Linked DNA regions of Homo sapiens. The protein of the gene in region 1 purifies or fractionates together with the protein of each later gene. This does not show direct contact. Each region holds a gene or a part of one and is shown in the gene's direction. Other genes may lie near its edges.

Evidence for each region.
Region 2: the proteins of PUM3 (region 1) and UTP14A fractionate together in Homo sapiens (co-fractionation; one large-scale study listed by BioGRID). This does not show direct contact.
Region 3: the proteins of PUM3 (region 1) and WDR36 fractionate together in Homo sapiens (co-fractionation; one large-scale study listed by BioGRID). This does not show direct contact.
Region 4: the proteins of PUM3 (region 1) and DDX31 purify together in Homo sapiens (affinity purification with mass spectrometry; 2 studies listed by BioGRID and IntAct, with this or other methods). This does not show direct contact.
Region 5: the proteins of PUM3 (region 1) and ZCCHC7 purify together in Homo sapiens (affinity purification with mass spectrometry; 2 studies listed by BioGRID and IntAct, with this or other methods). This does not show direct contact.
Region 6: the proteins of PUM3 (region 1) and ZFP62 purify together in Homo sapiens (affinity purification with mass spectrometry; 2 studies listed by BioGRID and IntAct, with this or other methods). This does not show direct contact.
Region 7: the proteins of PUM3 (region 1) and DDX10 fractionate together in Homo sapiens (co-fractionation; one large-scale study listed by BioGRID). This does not show direct contact.

The regions. Positions count from the first base shown.
Region 1 is NC_000009.12:2,834,096-2,837,595, reverse strand, and holds part of PUM3 (pumilio homolog 3), read left to right. Parts: intron 1-194; coding exon 195-416; intron 417-3,429; coding exon 3,430-3,500. UniProt on the Homo sapiens protein: Inhibits the poly(ADP-ribosyl)ation activity of PARP1 and the degradation of PARP1 by CASP3 following genotoxic stress. Binds to double-stranded RNA or DNA without sequence specificity. Involved in development of the eye and of primordial germ cells.
Region 2 is NC_000023.11:129,926,664-129,930,163, forward strand, and holds the end of UTP14A (U3 small nucleolar RNA-associated protein 14 homolog A), read left to right. Parts: intron 1-2,672; coding exon 2,673-2,945; 3' UTR 2,946-3,089; downstream 3,090-3,500. UniProt on the Homo sapiens protein: May be required for ribosome biogenesis.
Region 3 is NC_000005.10:111,098,848-111,102,347, forward strand, and holds part of WDR36 (WD repeat-containing protein 36), read left to right. Parts: intron 1-1,741; coding exon 1,742-1,874; intron 1,875-3,497; coding exon 3,498-3,500. UniProt on the Homo sapiens protein: Part of the small subunit (SSU) processome, first precursor of the small eukaryotic ribosomal subunit.
Region 4 is NC_000009.12:132,667,184-132,671,253, reverse strand, and holds the start of DDX31 (ATP-dependent DNA helicase DDX31), read left to right. Parts: upstream 1-1,270; 5' UTR 1,271-1,319; coding exon 1,320-1,394; intron 1,395-1,580; exon of another isoform or gene 1,581-1,582; coding exon of another isoform or gene 1,583-1,684; intron 1,685-4,070. Other genes in the region: GTF3C4 (general transcription factor 3C polypeptide 4), read right to left, coding at 299-655. UniProt on the Homo sapiens protein: May have DNA helicase activity and RNA helicase activity. Probably have ssDNA and RNA dependent ATPase activity. Plays a role in ribosome biogenesis and TP53/p53 regulation through its interaction with NPM1.
Region 5 is NC_000009.12:37,127,074-37,130,573, forward strand, and holds part of ZCCHC7 (zinc finger CCHC domain-containing protein 7), read left to right. Parts: intron 1-3,500.
Region 6 is NC_000005.10:180,858,477-180,862,716, reverse strand, and holds the start of ZFP62 (zinc finger protein 62 homolog), read left to right. Parts: upstream 1-1,440; 5' UTR 1,441-1,497; coding exon 1,498-1,498; exon of another isoform or gene 1,499-1,607; coding exon of another isoform or gene 1,608-1,608; exon of another isoform or gene 1,609-1,643; intron 1,644-2,037; exon of another isoform or gene 2,038-2,625; coding exon of another isoform or gene 2,626-2,677; intron 2,678-4,240. UniProt on the Homo sapiens protein: May play a role in differentiating skeletal muscle.
Region 7 is NC_000011.10:108,720,569-108,724,068, forward strand, and holds part of DDX10 (probable ATP-dependent RNA helicase DDX10), read left to right. Parts: intron 1-2,428; coding exon 2,429-2,894; intron 2,895-3,500. UniProt on the Homo sapiens protein: Putative ATP-dependent RNA helicase that plays various role in innate immunity or inflammation. Plays a role in the enhancement of AIM2-induced inflammasome activation by interacting with AIM2 and stabilizing its protein level.

The DNA.
Region 1 (3,500 bases):
ATCAAGGAAAGAATTTTTTATTTTTGTTTTGATTGTTTAAATCCAGTTCTACTCAAAAGGCTATATGTTGCATATTTGAGAGTAAGACATGGTATTGGGATTAAAAAGTATAATTTTCTGTAATGGATATAATCCAATAGATAAAAGAGATTTGGGCCCAGAATCATTGAACTTATAATTATTATTGTCACTAGATTCTGGTTCTTCAAAGACATTTCCAACAAGGAAAGTTGCTAAAGAAGGTGGACCTAAAGTCACATCTAGGAACTTTGAGAAAAGTATCACAAAACTTGGGAAAAAGGGTGTAAAGCAGTTCAAGAATAAGCAGCAAGGGGACAAATCACCAAAGAACAAATTCCAGCCGGCAAATAAATTCAACAAGAAGAGAAAATTCCAGCCAGATGGTAGAAGCGATGGTAAGTACTGGTTCGTTCATGCCTGAACTAGTGCCTGAACGATTGTGCACAGGGACTCTGGAGGTGCGTTAGAAACCTCACATTCTTATTCCTTGGCAGGTAACATTTTGGGACAGGTAGGTGGCTTAAATAAACAACAAAGCATCTTTCATGCTCACAATTTTCCTCTGGTGCTTAGAGTTTCTTATTTCTTAGCCCTTTTCTGAATTACCTTAGCCATGGAGTTAAGTTAAATTATAATGGCTTTATACAGTGGAACCTCAATAAAACATTTCTTTTTATAAGCTAAAATTTATTCGTTCATCGAACGAGTATTTGAGTTTTCTATGCATTGTACCAGGAGATAGGGCAAAACACACACACACACACGCACACACACAAAAATAATCAGTAAGGATACAGGCCCCAACTAATCATAGAATCTGGCTTTAAAGAATCAGTCTGTCCCCAGCTAAGTGTCAGCCTTGGTTAAGGATGCTTTGGTGAGCAAGAAACATAGAGACCCTGCCTTCACAGAGCTTAGGCCAGTCTAATACAATAAATCCCTCTGATGGCGCAGATCCATAGTAGTTCCAGAGAAGGTGTTGTGCACACATGACAGATTTGATTTTAATTGATTCAGGACAAGTTGCTCACTGATTGGAAGTATTGGCAGGTCTCGTGCTTGTCTGTTGAAACAAACTGCCCATCTCTGTCAACGATGTTCAGTGGGTCATTTCTAACCCAGAACTTTGCTCTCTATTTTATAACATTCCGCTGTCGTGCTTTGTCCTGCACTGATCTCAAACAAGCAGTTTCCAGGTTATGTGGATTGTCATATCATTACTTTCTTTGCAACATCCTGAGAATTTTTCTGGTGCCTTTTATTCTCTTTTTCTCCAGCACAGCGTGTCTTAACACTGCTCCTTTGTTGCCAGCTGAGACCACTGGGGATGGTTTTCTCAGTGCCATCCCCTAGTCCTGGTGCTTGCTTTTTACCCTGCCTAAGGGCTGCTTACCAGAGGGACAGCAGCCTTAAGACAAGGAGGTAGGGAGAGAGGAAGGAGGGGAAATGCCATCGTTTCCCATTAGGGCTCCAGGATCTTTTCATGCTCCAGTCTTGATCTTCTCTTTTCATTTTTTCTTTCTCCCTCATCTTCCTCCTCCCCAATTGCCAGAAGTTTCTCTTCCAGCTCTCTTTTCTACTTTCTCTTTCCTAACCTCTCTACTAGATCCCAAATCTTTCTTTCTCTACTGGAGTTTTTGATGCCTGCATTTTAAACACATATACATTAATTTCTCACATTGATATGAGGAAAGTTATGATTTCTTTTGCTATGGGAGATATGTTCCTGATATCTCAAAATGGGACTCTGGATTTCATTTTCTCATATTTTTGTATCAGTAACTAGACTGATAAAATAACATGAGAGATTGGTTACTAGACAACCCCCACACTGATAAATGTACTGCAGCCTAGCATGACATATGTCAAGGGTACCCAAATATTTATGGAATTAAATTAGCCCTGGATCAGTTCCTATCCTCTATTGTATAGTAGAGGATACCATATTAATATAATGGTAAATATGCCCTCTGTTGCCTATAATCTTTTGTATTACCAGACAGGGAATGAATATATAAGTAAACAATAAAGGAATAATAAATACATTGTAGTATATTGGATAGCCATTAAAAATTATGTTCTTGAGGAATGTTAATTTCATGAGCAAACATAATCTAATCATATTGAGTGAAGGCAGATTCTGAATTTTTTTCTTTTTTGAGGGTCTCACTTTGTTGCCCAGACTGTGAAGTGCAATGGCGTGATGATGGCTCACTGCATCCTCAACCTCCTGGACTCAAGTGATCCTCCTGCCTCAGCCTCCCAAGTAGCTGGGACTGCAGGCATGTACCACCACACCCGGCTAATTTTTTAATTTAATTTTTTGTGGAGACGGGGTCTCACTATTTCGCCCAGGCTGATCTCAAACTCCTGGCCTCAAATGATTCTTCTTCTTCAGCCTTCCAAAGTGCTAGGATTATAGGCGTGAGCCACTGCAGCTGGCCACTTTTTGAGTTTTTAAAGATTAAAACATGTATGGAGAAGAAGCAAGGGGAAAATTATCAGTGGCTATAGCTAGGTTTTGGTTTTACAGGGTTTTTCTTTTCTTTTTTTTTTTTTTTGCATTTTTCCCAGTTTTTTATAGAGACAGGGAGATAGTTAGAAGTGACTAATTCCCCCAAAAGATTCTGTGCCAGATACTCATGTAAATAATACCCATTTTAGTAAGTTGTTCTTTGTTTGGCATCATTAGTTCAATTGGTAAGTTACTTGGATTTTGAAGACAAAAAAGTGGTGATAGATATTCGACTTTTATAGTATCACTCTGTTTGTGGCGAACTTGGAAATTTTGGTTGTTCATTGTCATGACTAAGACAGCAGAGGGTTGTTTCTAGGTTTGAGTCCTAATTCTACCATTGCAGGTTGTGTGGCCTCAGATAGAGAGCTCAACTGCTTTGTTCTTTTTCCCCACCATGGAAGAGAGGGTAATATTAATACCTACCTCTTCGAGTTGTTGTAAGAAATAAGTGACTTAATATACAACAGCACTCAGAACAGTGAATTTTCGAAGTTGTTTTTCTTGTTTTCATTTGGACTAATTTTTGTTTTCATTGGAAGTTAATTATACCTAAAGTCCAATGATCTTAATCTTAAAAAGTAGAATTTTATTTCACAATTGAAAAAGATATTTAAAATATTCTAGTTACTTTTGTAATTCTTTTAGTGTCCTTTTCTCTTAATAGGTATCCTGTTAGAAGAATTAATGAAGATTTAAATTTAACCAAATGTAAAATGTACAAACTGCTCAGAAAGCAAAGTGAAGTATATATGGGGGATGGTATGTTCCCCTTTTTAGCTTCCAGAATGAGCATTGATCCTGATTAGTGATTGCCCTTTTTACCTAATTTGTATTGGTGTATGACACTTAGAATGTTAAATGTAATTGAAAATAATTTCTATAATAACTAGAATCAGCAGCCAAGAAGCCCAAATGGGATGACTTCAAAAAGAAGAAGAAAGAACTGAAGCAAAGCAGACAA
Region 2 (3,500 bases), on another chromosome or scaffold:
GCTAGGGATGTTTACAAGAGAAGAAAATTTGAGCGTGATTACGGTGTTCAAGTATATCGAAGGTTATTGTATGAAGTCACATAAAGTAGAAGTTAGAGGACATACAGAATTCAAGGCTGCTCTGGGAGTATGAGAATGTGTAAAGGGGACTCAAGAACGAGATTGGACTAGATGACCTTTATGTTCCCTTCAATTCTGAGATCTGTCCCCAGCCAGTATATTGAAATGAGTTACATTTTTCCCTCGGAAGGAATAAAGAATTAATGGCTACAGAACAGAGGTAAGAAGATACACATTTCAATAACATTCTTTTTGATCTTATTTTGTGAACCAATCACTGCAGAAACTGAATCATAACTACTGCAGTCCCAATTAAACCTATATAACTAGAAAATAGGCAGTTACACGATAAGGGAAGGGGGGAAAGGGTGCTTCAGTGGGCCAGGATTCCAGGTGATGGGTAGAGTATGGAGCTCAATAAAGACCACCCTTCCCTTCCAGGGGTCTGTTTGTTTTTTTAATACAGTCATGGCAAACTGACAAATAGTTTTCTAGGAATCTCCCCTGATTTTCATCTTTTTAATAAGTTACTGCAGGTTCCAACATGCAGTAGAATAAAGTGCTTCAAGGTGCCTAGGGGGGACTTCTGAGACTGAATACTTTGTCCAGGTGTTCTCTTTTTCTGTTGCCCTGGTTGACAAGCACAGATGTAGCCGTCAACCCAAATAAGACATTCCCTTAACTTAAAGAGAATCTGTTTCCTTTGCTACTACCAGGACCACCTGATAGTACTTAGCTTCTCTTGAGTATTCCACTGAATGTTTCCAGAGACTACTGATTTTTGTTTGTTTGTTTTGTTTTCAGATGGAGTCTCACTCTGTCACCCAGGCTGGAATGCAGTGGCACGATCCCAGCTCACTGCAACCTCCACCTCCCAAGTTCAAGCTATTCTCGTGTCTCAGCCTCCTGAGTAGCTGGGATTACAGGCATGCGCCACCACACCCAGCTTATTTTTGTATTATTAGCAGAGACAGGGTTTCACCATGTTGGCCAGGCTGGTCTTGAACTCCTGACCTCAAGTGATCTGCCTGCCTCGGTCTCCCAAAGTGCTGGGATTACAGGTGTGAGCCACCGTACCCTGCCAAAGACTACTGATTTTTACATCCCCATTTTCTGCTTACGTGTTTTCCTCCTTTGGCCACTGGGGAAGTGTTGAAAGATTATTTAATGTCTGAAGGTAGCAATGTGGTGGAGGAGTACCAGGCAAGGAAACAGGAGCTTTGGGTTCTGTTCTCCAATGCTGCTCCTCATTTACTTAGGTCCATCACTTCCCCCCTCTAAGCCAAATCTTCAGGCCAAGGGAGATGACCATTGTCAATATCTAGGGCCTTCCAGCTCTACATTCTGTGGTGCCAAAAGAAGATGAAGCTAAGTGGGCCGGGCATGGTGGTTCACACCTGTAATCCCAGCACTTTGGGAGGCCAAGGCGGGTGGATCACAAGGTCAGGAGATCGAGACCATCCTAACACAGTGAAACCCCATCTCTACTAAAAAAAAAAATACAAAAAAAAATTAGCCAGGCATGGTGGCAGGCCCCTGTAGTCCCAGCTACTAGGGAGGCTGAGGCAGGAGAATGGTGTGAACCTGGGAGGCGGAGCTTGCAGTGAGCCGAGATCACGCCACTGCACTCCAGCCTGGGAGACAGAGCGAGACTCCATCTCAAAAAAAAAAAAAAAAAAAAAAAAAAGATGAAACTAAGTGTAACGGCCTGGTAGAGTTCAGGATTCGGGTTCCTTAAAACATCAATCCTGGCCAGGCGCGGTGGCTCACGCCTGTAATCCCAGCACTTTGGGAGGCTGAGGCGGGTGGATCACGAGGTCAGGAGATCAAGACATCCTGGCTAACACGGTGAAACCCCGTCTCTACTAAAAATACAAAAAATTAGCCGGGCGTGGTGGTGGGCACCTGTAGTCCCAGCTACTCGGGAGGCTGAGGCAGGAGAATGGCGTGAACCCAGGAGGCAGAGCTTGCAGTGAGCGGAGATCGTGCCACTGCACTCCAGCCTGGGCGACAGAGCGAGACTCCGTCTCAAAAAACAAAAAAAAAATATCAATCCTAAGAGAGGGAAGGAGGAGACTGAAAGCATAAAGAGGGTAGAAAAGTCATAAAATCCACAGGGATACACAATGGTCTGGATTCTTGCAGTCACAGTGTTACATAGGAAAGCTCACTCTGGGACAACAGCCCTGGAGCTCCTGTAGCTAGATAGGGACAGTGTCACTTGTAATCCCAGCTACTTGGTAGGCAGAGGTTGCAGTGAGCAGAGATCACCCCACTGCACTCCAGCCTGGGCCACAGAGTGAGACTCTGTCTCAAAAAAAAGAAAAACAAAGATGGGCAGTGTCAGGGTGGTTTTTCAGACCCTGAATTGTTGAATAGATGGGGGATCCAGAGCCAACTCAGGCCCCCCTACTCCCAAATGTCATCAAACAGATTGAATTCCTAAGGGCAGATGGGAGCAATGGGACGCCTTGACCTCTCAGTCTCTTCACTTGCAGTCATCATGTGGAACCGTGGCCTGTACCAAAACAGTACCTGATGAAAGCTGCCATTACAGTATACAACTGCACCCCAGGCCTGCCTCATACCAAATCATTCTCCTTCCTTTCCAGGTACGAGTGCTTCCATATCCATTTACCCACCATTGGCAATTTGAAAGGACCATCCAGACCCCCATAGGATCCACATGGAACACCCAGAGGGCTTTCCAAAAGCTGACTACTCCCAAGGTCGTCACCAAGCCAGGCCATATCATTAACCCCATAAAAGCAGAAGACGTGGGCTACCGGTCTTCCTCAAGGTCGGACCTGTCTGTCATACAGAGGAATCCAAAACGAATCACCACACGTCACAAAAAACAGCTGAAGAAATGCTCTGTAGATTGAGTTGCTGGAGGAGTGACAGCCAGGAGCCCTGACTTCACTTCCTTTGGTCCAGTTTTACTCTGATACAGGGTGGATTCCAAAACTGGCTCAGTACATTGCATGTAGTTAAGCCACATTTTAAAAATAAAGGCATTTTTTAATCTATTTACCTGGAGTATATGTTGCATTGTCCCCCAGTGGGATCATTTCGTTCAAGTCAGACACCTTTGGACTCTACAGCATTGCATTTCTCGAGTTGCACTTGTCAGGGCCACCTCCTTTTCTTACCAAGGATTATGTAGTTGGTCCTAAATCGAAATGGAGAAAGTTAACTGTAGTCTGTAACCTTAAATATATCACATCAGATATGATCCACCATTAATAACTGCCAACTTGAAGAGACAGGGTTAATAATGATAAAATATTGTATATTTTAACCTCTGAACCTAGAAAGAGGATGTACAAACTGCAATTGGATTCTGCCCTAGACTGATCCTAAGACCAGGACGGTGCCGAAGCTGGGTTCTGTCCCCACAAGTCTAGCCACAGCCATTTTTTTCACATGTGTGAGCTTCC
Region 3 (3,500 bases), on another chromosome or scaffold:
TAACTCATTTATTTGCTTTATCTTAGGGTAGTATGTGTTTAATTAAAATTTAAAATCTATGTAAACATCTATGCCAGAGATTTTGCCTGTAAATAGTAAGAAATTAAAAAAATCAAAAATCTTTAACGTGTAAGAAAAAAAGTTCTAAGTAAGAAAGAGATAAACAACTTTAGCAAGTTAACTACTTATAAACTGTTTAATGTGCTTACCTCAACTAATGTATTTTCCATTGCAGTTCTCCAACTTTAATGATTTGTTGTATTGTTTTCCCTGTGGAGTGAATATTGATGTATTTTCATACCTGAGTAATTCTTGGTTTGTATTTTCACCTTTTAGTAAAGGAGACTGTAATAGTAAACTTGATCTTGTAATCTGAAGGAAAATATACATCCATTTCCTAGGGATATGAGTCAGTTTCTTTCAACTGTGATAGCTTAGACAGTGGCTATGTTTATGGGATTATGTATCTTTAAACATGAAGAATTTATCCCTAGGATATCTACACCTTTCCTCAATAAAATACTGGGTTCATCATGAATTGAATCTTTTAAGTTCTTTAATCTGGTTACATTTTTAGCTTATATTGCCTCTTGGTTTTTTTTTGTTTTTTTTTTTGTTTTTTTTTTTTTTTTTTTTTCAGTAAATATCCTGAAGATTGCATTTCTGGGAATTATTCCAGGTTCTTGTTTCAGATTAGTAACCCTTTTCTTGTTTTGTTTTTGCTCAAGTAGAGGGAGGGAACAGAATTCCAAAAGTATTCCCTGTGCAGATAGAAGTTAAAAGGGCTTTTATTAGGTTACAGGATCTGGTTCTTACATTCCAGCAGACTCTCTTGAACCAGTATATTCAGGGAGCCATTTGTAGTGACTGACGAATAAAGGCAAGGATCTCTTAAAATAGCATTCAAAGTAAAGTTTATATAATTTTCACCTATACCTGTACATCCTAAACTGTGGTACCCATACCCTGGGATTGTACAGTAGTGTGCCAGATAGTATGTGAACCTAAAGATTAAGTGAAATGTACCTTCTTTGATACACAAATTTACTGGAAAATAGAGTGGAACATTGTTTTAATCATGGAGGAACTGTAAAGTGAAAAGCAGAATTCAAACATAGAAATTTTGAATGTAACCAAAGATTTCAGAGAATTTTTTTATCTTGGAGCAAGTGACCACTGGTGATGCCACCCCCCACTCCACAGGGTTATACGTTTTTTTTTTCTCCTTTATTAGAGATTATTTTGTGGAAATGTGTGAGAAGTACTCTTATTTCACTGAGGTGTGTCTTTTATTTTTGGCATTTTTTGAGTGGCCCATCAAACTTTCCAGATAATTGGCTCTTCGTTCCCTGAAAGAGCTAAGTATAAGCACTTCACTTGGAATATTCACTCCTGTCTGTTGATCAAATTACAGAAACATGAATGCTAATCCTTAGGATCTTTTTTTTTTAACTTTATTATCCTTTTCTGTAAAGTAATTCAAAAGTGAATGAAACTTTTAATAGTATTTTTATTAGAAGTTACAGAAAATTTTTGACAGTCTAAATTAAATTACATTTACAAGTTGCCTCTCATTTATTTTATTTCTCAAGGAATGTTTATAGATTAGTATCTAAGTCTGTGGTTTATTTTAACATATAAATCTTTGATGTGATAGACTTACTTTAAGTGATAAATATATGGTTACATAAAACATTTTAAACTATTTTATAAAAAATATTTATAACTTTCACTTTTGTAGAAGAATACCTGCAGTTGACTTTTGATAAATCAGTATTTAAAATTTCTGCAATTTTGCATCCAAGTACCTACTTGAATAAAATACTTCTGGGCAGTGAACAAGGAAGCCTGCAGTTGTGGAATGTAAAATCCAAGTAAGTATTTTAGTTAGAAAATAATATAGCTGTCACCTTATCCTCATCTACTACTTCCTAATGTATACTTAAGTCTCATTTCTCCCTGCCCTTGTATATTTATTTGGAGGGTTGTCTATAAATAACAGTTGGTCCCCTGTATCAGAGGAGTCAATTAACCTGGGATCAAAAATATTCAAGGAAAAATAAATAAATAATAATACAACAATAAAACATCACATTTTAAAGTAGTACAGTATAACAGCTATTTACATAGTATTTACATTATATTAGGTCTTATAAGTAAGCTAGAGATTATTTAAAGTATATGCATAAATGTGTGAAAGTTATATGCAAATACCACACCATTTTATGTAAGGGACTTGAGCATCTGTGAATTTTGGTATCAGCAGAGAAGTTGGGGAAGTCCTGGAACCAATCCCCCACAGGTAGTGAGATATAACTATATGTTTGCTTTTGGAGTTGTTGCTGGTGGCATCACATATGTGAAAGGTGGCATGTGATCCTGACACATGTTAGACAGCTTCATAAATGCTCACTGAAAAGTATGTACTAATGACCTAATAACTGTAAAGAATTGCTATAGAGAAGGCTCTAATAAAGGTCTATGAGATCCATCAGAAAATAATAATAATGAGATTATTACTAGGGAGCTTCTGATTTTCCATACATGAAGATTTTCTATACATGAAGAAGGTAAAAGATGGAAAGGCAAATCAATAATTTAGTGCTAGCATTTAGAAATGATTTTTAGGGTTAAAAGTACTTCCATAATCTCCCATAGATATGGCAAATATCTAATATTGATGTAGCTAGAGGGCTGGATACATGATTTTGAATACTTCTATCCATTATGTAAACATTTATCAGTAGAAAAAGGTGGCAGCTCACACTTCTTTGTATAGCATTTTAAAAAGCAAACAAAAATATTTGACCATCCAAATTGTTTTTTTCCAAAGTCCTTTTAAATTCAAAAGGGAAAATAAGATTATTAAAGGTTTGATGTTTTAAATCAGTGTTTCATTACAATTTAACAAATACCATTGACTGCCTACTTTGTGCTAGGTTCAGCAATAGTGACTGAAATACTGTCTTTGCCCATTTACAGAATTTAATACATGATTTAATATTTTAATGATAATTATAATGATTTCAGATACCTCTGTTTGCTCCATGGATGTGTTATTTATCATTCATGACTTGCTTCTGAAATTGAGAGCAGCATTACTGTTGTCATATAACAGTCATATAACATGCAAATAATATTTTTATTAAAATATAAGTTATTCCCTTTCATGATGTTTCTATAAAGATACTGCAGTCCTAAATTTTTTTTACTGTAGCCTGTAATATAACATGATTTTTACACACGTATTTTTTTTTCCACTTAGGACATTTAATTTCTTAATGAGGTGGCATAGCATAGTAGTTAGTTTGAGACCTAGAATTTGTCTGGACAATATTACTAACCTTGTGACATTAGCTTAATCATCAGAATAGTGTGTGGAAGAGTAAGAACTTAATAAATATCACCTATTATTATTTCACTTTTTAATGTGTAGCTGATATTGTTTTCCTCCAAAAAAAAAAAAATACAGCTTTCAACTATTTTTCTTCTTGTAGTAA
Region 4 (4,070 bases), about 130 Mb from region 1:
CGGGCCCGACGGAGGGGCGAAGGAGGGGTTCCTGGGACTCAACTCCGGGAAGCCCCCTGGGTGTGTACCTGTGTTTGCGGCGGCGGGTGACCTGGGGAAACAGGGTGCAGACAGCTGCAGAGCTTTTCTTTTTTTTTTTTTAAGCTGTGGTAACCCTGGCTGCTTAATAAATCCCCAGCGCTCGGTGCGAAGAGGGAAATCCCCGGACAGAGTGTGGGATCGGATTCCCCTGGGACGGATGATGCGGCCGCGAGAGGGGGACAGGGGAAGACCCCAGGGATGGCGGGGGATGACTTACTTTGAGGAGACAGCTGTTGAGCGGTGCGGGCACCGAGGTGCGGTGGATAACCAGGTCCTGGCCCGGGTTGTGCACGTCGCAGATGAGCTCCAGCACAGCGATGCTGCGGGCCGTGGACACAGACACGCGGTGGTCCTCGGACCAAGCCAGCGGTTCCAGGCCGCTCACCGCATACTGCAGCTTCACGGCCGGCTCCCGCCGAGTCACCATGAGGCGGAATGCAGCGCTGGGCCCCGGGGCCGCGTCCGCTGCTGGCTCCTTCCCGCCCGCCTCGCCGCCCCCCTCTCCCTCCTCCTCCCCAGACGGCGCAGGCCCGTCGTCCGCGGGCCCCACCCGGGCCTGGTCGGCCGTGTTCATCTTCTCTCAGGTGCAGAGGTCGGACGCCCTGGCGCTCCACGCAGTCGCGCGACCACCTCCCGGACCGCCGCCGCCACCCCCAGCGCCCTCCGCGGCGGTTTTCTCCCCTCAGGCCCCGAGCGCCGCCGAGCCAAGAAGGACCCCGCCGTTGCCAGGCAACGCGGCCCTACCAGGTGGCCAAGGAACTGCCTGTCCAGAAAAAGGACAGCGAGCGGGGAGCCCCGAGGACCCCCTTTTCCCTGCCCAGGGATTGAGCTCCAGAGCCTGTTAGGGAGCTACCCAGACAGGCTTTAGTTCCTAAAGTGCTGAGGAAACGCACGGGGCGGTAAAGGGGAGGCTCGTCGGTGAGATGGCGCCGGATCTCGCTTCTCAGAGGCATTCAGAGAGCTTCCCCAGCGTGAACTCTCGGCCGAATGTAATTTTGCCAGGCCGCGAGGGACGCAGAGAGGGGCTGCCACCAGGCGGGGGCACGCGCGGTAGTCTTGTCCCTACCCGCCCGGTGCCGCCGTCCCCGGCTCCCCTCGGGACGAGTCCGTACAGCTGGAGCCGTTCCGGACCCGGAAGGGGCGGTGGCGCAGGGTCCTCGCGCGTCCCACGTGGGGTCCCGGGCCCAGCAGTCTGCGCACCGGGCTCGCTGCTGCACCACGCGTCACCCACGCAGACCATGGCAGCCGCCGACGGTTCGCTCTTCGACAACCCCAGGACGTTCTCCAGACGTCCCCCAGCCCAGGCGAGTCGGGTGAGTTCTGACCCGGCTTCAGCTCCGTCCCCACCCGCGGCCCGGCTGTGGGCGCGCCGCGAGCTGCAGCCGTGCCTTGGAGTCGGGTTTCGAGTCATTCACGGAGTTAAGCGGGAGAAAGACACCGGGCAGCTTCGGGACAAGTTGCGCCGAAACACGTGTCTCTAACCGGAACACCACCCGCAGGGATGCGCCTGGAAGCGGGGAGTGGAGCGGTGTGGAGGGGCGGGGAGCTGGCTCCTGCGCCTAGAAAAGTAAAGGAAGGAATTAGAGGCTGTTTCCCGTGGAAGGTAGGACCTGAAGTTCCGGCGCAAGTCCCAGGCCAAAGCTTAACTTCTCTAAGCCAGTTTCCTCGACTGAGTGCGGACTAAGCTCTGATTTTTTTTTTTATCTTGCCCACATTCCTGTCTGGGAAGAGTCATGCCCTACAAACCATAAATTCTCATCAGATGGCTTTCATTTAACCCTATATATCGTGACTTACTTTCCAAACTGGCTCTGGCCTAACATTATGTGACAAAGAAGAAAGTTAAAATATTACCCCTAAACATGTTTCTTTGCCACATTTTGAAATGGCTTTGCAAAGCTGTTCTTTGGGGGGGGCGGGCGGGGTGGACATTTGCATCTGCAAAGAATCTCTATTAACATAGCTAGATCTTTTTCTTCCAGGCCCTCCCAATCCTAAAGAGATTAAGAGTCTACCACCTTTCAAAGATCTGAATAGGAAACACTTGTCTGTTGTCTCTAAGGGCAGCCACTAAAGACTTGAAAAGAACCTTGGTCTCCACAATCTTTTATCTTAACCTGAGCATTTTCTTTGTATCCATCCCAGGTGTTTAGACAAACTCAACCGTCAACTAGAAAATGTTTAAATTTACCTATAGCCTGGAAGCCCCCGCTTTGAGTTGTCCCACCTTTCTGGACAAAACCAGTGTATTTCTGAAATGTATTTGATGTCTCATGCCTCTCTAGAATGTATAAAACCAAGCCGCGGCCGGGCGCGGTGGCTCACGCCTGTAATCCCAGCACTTTGGGAGGCCGAGGCAGGCGGATCACGAGGTCAGGAGATCGAGACCATCCTGGCTAACAAGATGAAACCCCCGTCTCTACTAAAAATACAAAAAATTAGCTGGGCGTGGTGGTGGGCGCCTGTAGTCCCAGCTACTCGGGAGGCTGAGGCAGGAGAATGGCGTGAACCCAGGAGGCGGAGCTTGCAGTGAGCCGAGATCATGCCATTGCACTCCAGCCTGGGCAACAGAACGAGACTCCGTCTCAAAAAAAAAAAAAAAAGCTGCACCCCGACCACCTTGGGCACATGTTCTCAGGACCTCTCGAGGGCTGGATCATGGGCCATGGTCACTCATACTTGGCTCAGAATAAGTCTCTTCAGATATTTTTGAGTTTAACTCTTTTGGTCGCCATGAGGAAGGTTCGTTTGTTTCAGGAATGAGGACTGGCAACTAGGAGTTTTTTTGAAGAGCTTTCAAAAATGGGACAGATTTTCATCCCCATGCAATGGAGGGGGATAGGAAAATCGGTTTCATTGATATAATCCCATTGCTAGAGAGGGGTAAGATGCCCTAGAATTAACTTAAGCAGTAACTGAAAACTGGTTTCTAGGATAGTTGATTTGTCTCTTAGAAAAGAGGACTACAGGACAGAAAGACTGATTAAAATCATAAAGTGATCATCAAACTTTAGGATTTAGATGTTTGGCAGTAAGGAGTCCAGCTAGCCAAGTGTAGCTGCATCTGGGTGGAGCGGGGAGAAGGATAGAAGAGCCACTGGGAGCATGGGATTTGGAATAGGATACACTTGGGATTCGGATGCTGCCCTTGCTGCACACTAGCTCTGTGACCTTGGAGCAAGTCACTTAATCTTTCTGATTCTCACTTTTCCTATCTATAAAATGAGAACAATAATTTCTACTCCATAGAAGACTATTGTAAGGATTCATTGAGATAGTATACATGAAGACTATACGTTGTCTGGCCCATAGAAGCACTTAATAAATGCCAACAGTATAAAGTAGTTTTGGCTCCATTTTGGATAATAGATTGCTACATCAGGAGGTCAGTGGGGTGCTTGTGTCCTCTGCAGAGCCTGGTAACTAACACATAAGAAGCATTGAGTAAATACATATAGGCTACCTAGTTTTATGGTTATCAAAAGGGGATTAATTAATGCAGTGATGACAGGTGTCTGCGGTGGCCTTGTCTAGATCTACGTTTTTTGTTTTGTTTTGTTTTGTTTTTTTGAGATGGAGTCTCGCTCTGTCTCCCAGGCTGGAGTGCAGTGGCGCGATCTCTGCTCACTGCAAGCTCTGCCTCCTGAGTTCACACCATTCTCCTGCCTCAGCCTCTTGAGTAGCTGGGACTACAGGTGCCCACCACCACACCCGGCTAATTTTTTTGAATTTTTAATAGAGATGGGGTTTCACTGTGTGTTAGCCAGGATGGTCTCCATCTCCCGACCTTGTGATCTGCCCACCTCGGCCTCCCACAGTGCTGGGATTACAGGCGTGAGCCAGCCAGGCCTAGATCTACATTTTCATTGATGTCGTGAATGAGAATGATGGATATGCTGATGAGACTTGCCAGTAGCCTGAACTTGAGATGGGTAGCTAATATACTGGATTTAGAAAGACTAACAGCTTAAATTATGCTGTATCTAACA
Region 5 (3,500 bases), about 34 Mb from region 1:
CTCATGCGACTCTCTTACCAGTGGCTACTCTAATGGTGGTTTGTCTGAACGTCAGAAAGAGTATGTCAGAATACCAAAGACACTCTGCTTCTGCTGTAAGCAGATTCATAGCTGCTTCTTCCTGTTTGGCTAGAGCCAGTTCTGGACCTGAAATCTTACTTCCCCCCTCTCTCTCTGCTTGGTACCACAGGTGAGTACTCCATCCACCTCTGGCATTAGCCCTGTGCACTCATTCAGCCAACTCTGTTGGGACTGTCTCTTCCTATGGGATTTGCTTACCCAGGAGTTAGATGGCAAGCATAGGGAATGTCTGGCACACAGAATATATGGAATTAGTGTTAGGATTAGGATTTTAGGTACTCCACAGTCAGAAAGACAGGAAAATATGAAGAGCTGTAAGTCTAGGGCAGGTTATAGGGGAGAATGCAAATTTTGATAGCTACATCATCAAGGATTAAAATTTTGGTGTTAGTTATGTCTCTGTGACATGTAGTCATCTAGTCTTAATGCTTATGCCTTCAAGAAGTTCCTTTTCATTTCCCTCCCTTTATGCCTAATGCTCAGTCTCTTGCACTAGTTTCCTAAGTAGTCTTCTTTTATATCTACCCTGTACACTGTTGTTAAAACTGGTATTGAAATGCTCTTTTACTCATAGTACTTTATTGCTGCTCCAAAATTTTTAATGGCAGCCTGCTTCCCTAGAAATGATGACATTGAATGTAGATTGTGCTTGGAGCCCCTGGGATTGGCAAATGTTTTTTTAAGAAGCCAGATAGAAAATATTTTAGGATTCCAAGCCATGTGATATCTTAACTACTCAACTTGGCCCTTGTGGGAAAGCAGCCTTAAATAATACCTATAGAAATGGGGGTGGCTGTTCTCAGTAAAGCCCTACTTACAAAAACAGGTGGCCGGCTCAGGCTGTAGTTTGCAAACCCTGAGAACTTGACAGCAAAACGAAAAGAGAGAATAGTAGTTAGGACAGAACAGAATCGCGTAAAGTTTTTTCCATATAGGTGAGCTCTGATAATGTTTGTAGGTAGAAAGAAAGAAACTTGTGAAGGAGAGACTAAACCTGTTTGATGGATTGGGTTGGGGGCCAGGTTAGAGATAGGATCAGGTGTATGTGTTGTTGAATTATTCCTAAAAAGGAAGAGAGACACTAGTAATTGCTAAATCATCAAATATTTGTAGAGGTAGAGGAGAAAGAATAAATTCAGATGGATTGAGGCAGATGAGAGAACATATGGGGATGTGTTTGATTTTCTTAGGAAAATGAAAGCAGAAGTGGGAGAGGGCGGGGGATAATTGGAAGCTTAGAATGTGGAAGGGATGTTTAAGTGCTGTGGGGAATACTTTGAGGCAGTGGTTACCAGTATTTTGAAGATGACAACCTGTGTAACTTTGAAACAATTTGTGGACCACCCATGGTTGTAGTTATGATTTTAGTATTCAATTGAGAAAATGCATATTAGAAAGAAGCTACTACTCTTACATGACTTTGTGTTTTATTAATCACAACATTGATATGTGAGAAATAGTGTTTATAATGCGTTGCTCTAGGTACCCATTAAGGTAACTAATTCTGCAGTTTCCCAGGAGGCTGAAGGCTCTTAAGTTGGAAATCATTGCACTTGAGTGAATCAACAGTAAGAGAATAAAGGATTGTTTAGAAGTAGTATTCAGTCAAAATTAAAATGATGTGAACTTGTAGTGAACTCACTTTGAAGGATTCCATAACTTTATCCAGTAATACTTGTCAGCTTGGAGCAAGATGACAGAAACAAAATGATCTTGGGTTAGGCGTAACACTATAGAAGGCCAAAATAAGCATTTAGCTTATTCTTTCTCTAAATTACCTTTTCCTGAGATCACACCTAGTTTCATTAATCACTTCTGTATTTATGGTCATCAAATTGTCATCTCCTTAACCATTTTGTTGATTTCAAATTCTCTGTGTACATCTACAGAATATTTCCATTTGGGTATCTTACTGTCTCACATTTGACATACTGAAAAGAAAGCTTGATAACTTGAAAAAAAAGCTTATTATCTTTCCTTTGAAACAACTCCCTGCTGCTTTCTGTTTGCACTAGAGAATCTACAGACATGCTAAAGTTGATGGCACAATGTGGATAGGTTGGGAAAAACATGAATTAGGTGCTGGATTTAGTGAAGAAATCGAACTGTGCCATATTTGGCAAATGATGGTGATGAGAAAGTAGAGAGAACCTTGGATTTGTTTTCTGTTTTAGCCAAATAGAATTAAATTCTGAATTTTTGGAAATTAATTTACTTGACTCTTATAAACTCTTACAAATACTCAAATATATATTCTCCATTTTATTTCCTTGATCCACTAATGCTGTAATCCTATTTCCAATTAATAAACAACATATTTAGTACTGATGCCCATTTAAGTGTGTTGTTACTCTGTAATCACTATCCCTCTCATAAAACTATCTGGGGATAGATTGGTTCATATAATCTTTAGAGAGAAGATTTTTCTCATTTCTGTAAAAGTGTAGAGAAAATCTCAAGTACTTTAGAAATGCCTATTGTTAAACAGTATCCATAATTATTTTGTGTTCTGTTTCCTTGACCTCACTCAAGAAAAAAACAAAATATCTCCCAGAATTATGGCATACTGAAAACTGCAGTATGACATAAAAGAAAAGACTACAGGCTCCTTGAGGTTGGGTCTTTTCCATACTCATAAACCTGCTTATAATAATATTTAGAGTAATTTCTTGGCACATACATTACCTGCTTTCTCATCAATTGCTAAATCATCAAACATTTATTGAGCATCTCCTCTATGTAGGGTATAAGTAATGCTGAGGTAGTACTCGTGACTTACAGTGGTAAAAGACTTAAGTTTTAGGCCGAGAGCAGTGGCTCACGCCTGTAATCCCAACACTTTGAGAGGCCGAGGCGGGTGGATCACCTGAGGTCAGGAGTTCGAGACCAGCCTGGCCAACATGGCGAAACCCCATCTCTACTAAAAATAAATAAATTAGCTGGGAGTGGTGGCAGGCACCTGTAATCCCAGCTACTTGGGAGGCTAAGGCAGGAGAATTGCTTGACCCAGGAGGTGGAGGTTGCAGTGAGCTGAGATTGCACCATTGCACTCCAGCCTGGGTGATGGAGTGAGACTGTCTCAAAAAAAAAAAAAAAAAGATAAGTTTTAGCCTTGAATGACATAGTGTTTCACTAAAGAGACAGAATATAGGAAGCTAAGTAATTTACGGAATTCTCTCCTTTTTTTTTTTTTTTTTTTTTTTTTTTTTTATAGCAGTGGGGTCTTACCCTATAAATAGAGCAAGGCTAGTTTGGAACTCCTGGGCTTGTGTGGTCCTCCCGCCTTAGCCTTCAGAGTAGCTGGGAGTGCAGGTGTGAACACAGCTTTGAAATCTCAATTTTTTTTTTTTTTTTTTGAGACAGAGTCTCGCTCTGTCGCCCAGGCTGGAGTGCAATGGCATGATCTCGGCTCACTGCAA
Region 6 (4,240 bases), on another chromosome or scaffold:
GTCTCAGCACCCACATGTATAAAAATGAAAAATAGGCGTCGAGCTGATGCCAAACACCGGCTCACCCCAGCAATATGTAAAATTCATTCAAATAATATAAATAATTTGAGCTGTAAAACAAAATCCATCTCATTACAAGTTGTGCTTCCAAAGCACTTCACTTTTTGTCTAAGAATTAACAGTAAACATTTTGAAATATTTATATAATTTTGCTAATAATCCAGAAAATAACACTAAGAAAAAATGTAATCTACTTTCGTTACGGACATATATGCTAGGATAAACAATAAACAATAAAACAATGCATAGAACTATTTTACACTAGGATAAAATTCAATGAGGCACATAGAATGAAAATATTTTTACAGTAGAATAAAAAGCCGGTGAGGGACATAAAAGTTCAAGGAAAAAAACCCTAAAAGATGTAAAACTTATGACTGTTAAAAGTGGATAATACCAAATCTTCAGGGATTTAGATTCCATTGGATACACTTGAAAGCAATTTTGTTCTTAATATTAACAGCATGCCAAAAATATACCCTTTGCAATTATTTAAACTTAATATGAAAAATATTTAGATGTTGCTGTTTTTAAAAAAGGCTGACTATAGCCAATAACTTAGTTGTATATTTAAAAATAAGAATATAATTTGATTGCTTGTAACACAAAGGATAAATGCTTGAAGTGATGGACACGCCATTAACCCTGATATGATTATTACGCATTGCATTCCTGTCTGTATCAAGATATCTCACGTACTCGACAAATAGGGACACCTACTATGTACCCACAAACATTAATTTAAAAAAAAAAAAAAGGTCTTCAAAGTCATTTTAGGCCCTGGGTTTGGAAGCCGACACCGGCGGTGGGGTGGGCAGGGGGCGAGGTCGCTGCCAAGCTGGCGCCCCGGGTGGGAGCGTGGCCCGGTCCCAGGGACGGCTCCAGGGGCGCGCTCCCACTCCGCATCCCCAGTGCCTAACCGGGGGCGCTTCTGGTGCTGACGACCAGGAAGGGCTGGTGCTCTCGGGCCAGCCCCCAACCAGCTGAGAAGGCAATGGGTCCCCAGCCCAGCGCTGTCCTGCGCCCCTCCCGGATTCCCCCATTTCCCGCCAGGCCCCCACTTCCGGGAACGTCCCCGCACCCACACCTGGCAATGAATCACGTGTTCAGGAACCAGGTAGGCAGGTATTTACTTTATTACCTGTGCCCCTCCCCCAGCCTACCCCAGAAGCTAATGGGCACGGAAACAGAAAGCCCCGCCCACGGCCTCCTGGCCGCGCCTGGAGCGCGCGCCCTGCAGCTGGTCCTCAATAAATAGCCGAGGAGGCGCTCCCCTCCCTCCCTCCCGCCGGCGCCGTCGGCCCGGACCATCGAGTCAGTCCTCCAGCGTCCCAGAGAGGGCGCGGAAGTGCCCCAGGGCCGGCGCGGGTTCTTCCGGCCGTGCGGTCCGCGCTTTTGTCCCGCTGGCGGCCGGGTTCCCGCGGCGCCGCCACAGCCAGTACGTGAGTCCGCGGCCGCCCGCGCTCCCGCCCCCGGCCCTTGCCTGCCACGCCCTCCCCTTTTTGGCCGGGTCTTGGCTGCTCCGCGGGTCTCGGGCGGGATGTGGGAGTAAGCGTGCCCCCTCCCCGCACATGTCTCAGTGGGTGCGTTTCTGGGGAGCGGAGGGGAGGGAAGACCTCGGGCAGGCAGAGGGGTGCAGGGCGCGCCCCTGGAACAGACTGGGCTCTGTGTGGGCCACAACTGCGACGTTTGAACGGACCAGCGTCATGTTAGGTCTGCTCAACGTTCCGAGAAGGGCCAGGGCCCCGCTCCGGTGTTCCTCAACTATTCATCCCTGTTTTGGATGGGAGGGGATCCCTAAAAATTAGCGCTTCAAAATACCCACCATTTCGTGCTCCCTCTGCAGTTAAGTTTGGTACTCTAGGACTTGAGAGTGATTGCGAGGGCAGAGAGACCTCTAGGGGTGATCTGATTCGACCTTCTTCCCCTCCGCTCCACCCCACCACCTTTTTTTCTTTTTTTTTTTTGGTCGGTGAGTGATGATGATAAGCTCCCGCTGCAGGTGTGAATAGAGACCCCGGAGGTGCGTCCTAGCCCTCATCTGGGGAAGCGCACCTGCATACAGACGGGTGCACCGGGGAGGAGGCGACCTGCCGCGTGTTCCTGCAAGCAGAAAAGGAGTTAACTAGGTAGGGAGAGGAAGGTCGAAGAGTTTCTTAGACCCAGGGGACAGCCTGCGGGAACCCAGGGGTGGGACGGAAAAGATCACTGGGGAATGCCAGGGCTGGGTGTGCTGCTCTAAGACATTTAAAGTAGTTGGCCAGCAGGAGCATTTCTTTGTGAAAGCTCAAGGCTTAAAAAAAATAATAATATGAAATATGTAATATATTCATATGGCTGGGATATTAAAAATATAAAAAGTTACCAGTGAAAGATTTCTTCCCATCCCGCTTAGGTATCTTCCTAGGCCCTACCCTCTTAGGTAACCACTTTTGTTCCTTTGTATCTTTTCCGAATTTCTGCAAATACTGGCAAATATAACTAGTTAGTTCCCCCTTTTTTCACACAGGTGATAGAAATCCTTCTAACTCCTTGATTCTTTCACTTTATCTTACTGGTCTCTACATGTCAGAACACAGAAGTTGTGTTTTGTTTCGTTTTGTTTTACAGAGCTGTGGTAAGTATTGGATGGGCCATTGTTTGGATGTTTTCGATGTTCTGTCCTTTTTTAGATCTATTCGGGGGCATTTGGGTTGTCTCCAATTTGTTGTTACTTCAAACAATGGTATACTCAATACAGTGTATTAGGGTAGGGATTTTTACAGAAGAAACTAAACAGCCGTTAGAAAATTATTTTTTTACATTAACTCAACCAGTTATTGGCAGATTGTTACATATGACAAGTCGTTATCAAAATCACTGATGTAGAGTGTTTAAAGAACAAATAAGACGTAAGTAGTTCTTCCCTTCTGAGACTTGTCCCTATATTTAGTGTTACACTAGCCTAATAGACTAATTGTGTCAATGACTCCAAGCCAGTCCCTGCCGGGTTTGATTCAGAAAATCAGCCTCCCTTTTAGTATCGCCTTTGCTCACCTCCTCCCCTACGACAACTAGAAATCTCTTCTCCACTACTTGGCATGAGAATGTTCTATTTCAGTTTTTTACTTTAAGGAAAAATCACCTTTCATTCTTATTTCTATATTTAAGCAATAGAACCAACTCACGTTAATCATATACATTCCTAATATTCATAAGACAAATGCAACAGTAGCTAGAACACAAACCATATTCTCTTCTCATCTGCATATCACTTCTCTGTTCCTTAGTCCCATCTTTCCTTTGTACATTTTGCCCCTCCTAGGTACTCTTTGTTCTGGGTTGGTAAGCATTTTGTCACTTTCTCTTGTCTTGTTTCCTTTCTTTGCTCATCTCCAAATCAAAGACAGTATCCAAGGATTTAAGGTGTAGAATCCACGCGTGAACCTTGAGGTGGTAGATTGTCTTGTGGAATATGGTTGGACTCTGCAAATTGAAAGTCGTTCCGGGCTAGTTGCAGTCTGTTAATAGGAAGGGGTTTTCGGCCAGAGCAGGCCACGGCTCCTCTCTAACGAGTTGTCTCGGCTCTTGAAAAGTGGCTCCTGAGTCTCGGAGGCAGAGACAGCAAGAATGTAGGGCCGGTTCTTAACTGTTTGCATTCACTTTTCTAGGCCTTGGCGATAAAGCATGAACAAGAAGCTCGGAAGAGTGCCCAGAGGTTGTTGGTCGTATGTAGTTTGGAAGGAGTGGGTGGCGTTCTATGTCTGACGCTTTTGGCTGATGTAACCAGGCTATTAGACTCATGCTGCGTGTTGAAAACTGGTTAGAAAGGGCTTGTCCATTCAGCCTTTAGAACTTTTAAGAAATTCAGGAGTTTCTGGGTCTTTATATGGAAGAGTTGTGTTTTGGGGGTAATTCCTTACTTGTGTCATCAGGGACACATGACTTAGCTACCAAATCAGTCTTGATTGGATTATAGTGACTTACTCCTGGAACTCCAGGACTCAGTCCTGTCTTGCCTCAATCCATTCTCCCACTGCAACTAGTGTGAGTGATCTTTCTTTTTTTTTGAGACAGAGTCTCGCTCTGTCACCGAGGCTGGAGTGCAATGGCGCTATCTTGGCTCACTGCAACCTCTGCCTCCCAGGTTCAAGCGATTCTTGTGCCTCAGCCTCCCAAGTCGAGTAGCTGGAACTACAGG
Region 7 (3,500 bases), on another chromosome or scaffold:
TTGTTTTGGCTTAGTATTTGAGGGATTTTTTGCGGGGGAGGAGACAGGGTCTTATTCTGTCACCCAGGCCATAGTGCAGTGGTGTGATCATGGCTCACTGCATCCTTGACCTCCCAGGCTTAGGTGATCCTCTCATCTCAGCCTCCTGAGTAGCTGGGACTACAGGTGCATGCTACCATGGCTGGCTAGTTTTTTTGTAATTTTTGTAGAGATAGGGTTTCGCCATGTTGCCCAGGCTGGTTTCAAACTCCTGGGCTCAAGTGATCCCCCCACCTCAGCCTTCCAAAGTGCTGGCATTACAGGTGTGAGCCACTGTGCCTGGCCGGGTTTTTTTTTTTTTTTTAAACCTTTTGACCTATAAAGAAGGAATGTTTATTCTTCAGTGGGCTCTTACTGTGGGAGTGGTAAAAACATTGGCACAATCTTATAGAAGCACCTTTGAGATAATCATACTTTGAATATCAGCATGAAATTTCCCAGACTATGGTGAAATATGTGATTACAAGGCAAGGTCTGTATGTTTGGCTTGCTCTTAGGAATTTGAGTGCCTTTACCTTTAAACTGAGTCTAACTACAACATATATCTAAGTGAGCTGTCGTTTTCTATTCTCTGTTAGATTGTATGTTTACCATAACAGGTAATATGTCAGTTATTACATTTTTGAACCTTTTAAATTGCTTTATAGCAGTGTAGGGCTGCTGACTTTCCATTTAAGTGACAGATGGAAAGCCACATGCCATGGATAACATGTTGTTGTTTGCTCATATGTTTAAATACCAGTTCCTAGTTTTATTATTTCTGAATATGATCCATGGCTTAGGTTATTAGTGGACTTTTGGCTCCCTGTTAATTTTTATCATGGTTTTCTGATTTGACCTACCTTGATATTAGCAGATAGGAAAGGCACAGGTCTTTAACACTGTAGGCCATATTTAGGGGACCATTTGTTGCAATAGATTCCAGTAAATTTTATCTATTGGTAGTTGATGACTTTTGCTTTTTGTGATGCTTAGAGAAGGCAGAAAATTAACGTTGAGAACAAATTTTAGTATAGTTGAGTTTGGTATTTTAATTTTTTTAGATATTTAGCTATGTTGTTTCCTTGAGGTATGTAATTTCCTTTAGAAGCCTTTGATACCTAAAGCAGTGCTGTGTATGTAAGATATATTAAAGGTTTTAAAATTTTACTAAAGAAACATGTTTTGAATACCTAATATGTGCAGGTCATTGTACTAGATGTTAAATTGTAGATGTATAAGATGTACTGCTGCCTTCAATAAACTCAGTTTTGGTAGCTGAGAGAGACATAAAAATGTAAGTGCAATACATTGAGTGAAATTCTCTGGATGAGTTTGTGATCCTAACCCTAACAGTGGTGATGGTGATGACATCAAGTTCTCATTAGTTCCCTATATGCCAGGCACTAGTTTTAACAGCATTACATCTGTCAACTAATTTATTCTTACAACAACCCTGTGAGGTAGGTACTCTTAGCATCCCGTTTTGCAAATGGGAAAGCTCCGGTATGGAAAGATTAAATCATATTCGTAAGATCTCACAGCTAGTAAGTGGCAGCCAGATTTTGAACCCCAGCAGTCTTATTTCTGAATCCATGCTTCTCAGCATTACATCTCTCAGTTTCTTTGAACCATGTCAGATAGGAAAAGAGCAGTGGGTCCATGTTATGATGTTACTGTTTATTCAGAGCAATCCTTGATAAAATCTAAGATTTTATTTCCCTTCGATCATTGAGAACTTAATGAAGCTATTAGCTTTGATCCAAGCTGGGAAAGACATGATAATAAATTGAATATTGATCATTGATGGAGAAAACAATATTTTTTAATTTCTTTTTTTGGTGTTTGGTTTATAAAATCCATTTTTATAGCAATGATTGTGCCATATTCTCTTTTAGGAAGGGAGATGGGGACCACATTCCAGTTCTTTCTCTGTAGAGAACTGTTTTGTCCTTTCATGGTCATGTCTTCTCTGGTTTATTTAGTACTTAACATTTTATGAGGTACTCTCATGTAGTTAGTTAATTGGATCCTTACAGCAACTGTGAGTTAGGCCTGGCAGGTACTGTTATCCCCATGTTATAAGGAAGCTGAAGCTGAGAGGGTTGAATTGGAAATTGGCAGGTCTAGTACTTGAACTGTTATCTTGTTTCTGGTCCAGTGCTCTTTATCTTATTCCATGTTACCCTCTTAAAGAAAAAATAGTGTCTAAAATGTTTTCTGACAGGTGTTGAGTGTATTTTGCCTTACTTTTTGGATCAACTAACCTGTTAGTATTGAGTTGTATCTCACAGGAACATTTTCTTTAAAAAAGCTCTAGGAATCTCTGCTCTTGAGAAACTCTTCTATGACACCTATAAACATATCATCAGTGTTGAGATGACTGTTTTCACGTTTTTCCATATTTAAGGTCTCTTGGTCTTGCTGTGGCACCACGCGTAAGATTTCTTCAGAAAATGCAGAAACAACCCACCAAAGAATTGGTAAGGAGCCAAGCCGATAAAGTAATTGAGCCAAGGGCTCCCTCCCTCACCAATGACGAAGTGGAAGAATTTAGAGCCTACTTCAATGAGAAAATGTCCATCCTTCAAAAAGGTGGAAAAAGACTCGAAGGGACAGAGCACAGACAGGATAATGATACTGGTAATGAAGAACAGGAAGAAGAAGAAGACGATGAAGAAGAAATGGAAGAGAAACTGGCAAAAGCAAAAGGATCTCAAGCCCCATCTCTTCCTAACACCAGTGAGGCACAGAAGATCAAGGAAGTTCCTACACAGTTCTTGGACAGAGATGAGGAGGAAGAAGATGCTGATTTCTTGAAGGTGAAGCGGCATAATGTGTTTGGATTGGACCTTAAAGACGAGAAAACATTACAGGTAAGTTTACTCCCAGTGGAGGGTCTTCTATTACATTGTCTTACTATGTGCTTATTGTTGCCTTTTGGGGACTGAGAGAAAGTGAAAACTAAGAAACTTAGACTGGGTTTCTTTGCAATGAACTCTTCCTCCTTTCCCCCATACTTAAACACAGAATAAGTGCCAATGAATTTTCATATTTTTCATAACTTTGGGAGCTCTAAGAGGTTAACAACTTTAATCTTATTTACTGGTTTTCTGATGCTGTGTTTTAAAAGTTGCCAAAGTCCTGATTAAGTCTCAAAGGAAGGCAATGAAGTTTTTTGGTTTATGGCATGAGGATCCTTCGTTAAAATTCTTAAGATACTGCTTTCTGATTGATTAAATTATAAGGAACAGTTGTAATTATTTAAATATAAGTTTTACTCTTAGTGCGACATTTGTTTATGGGAACCAAGCCAGTGTCTTAAATAGAAATTGAACAGTTCTTTTTTAAAGGCTACTTATGAATGTTTATGAAAAGTTTTCCTGTAAATCCTTTGTTTCTCCGTAGCCATCTTCTAGGAGGAACAAAAGAAATAATCCATTTAGATAAAGCACTTGTTTTCTAGGATGCTTTTGTAGGTG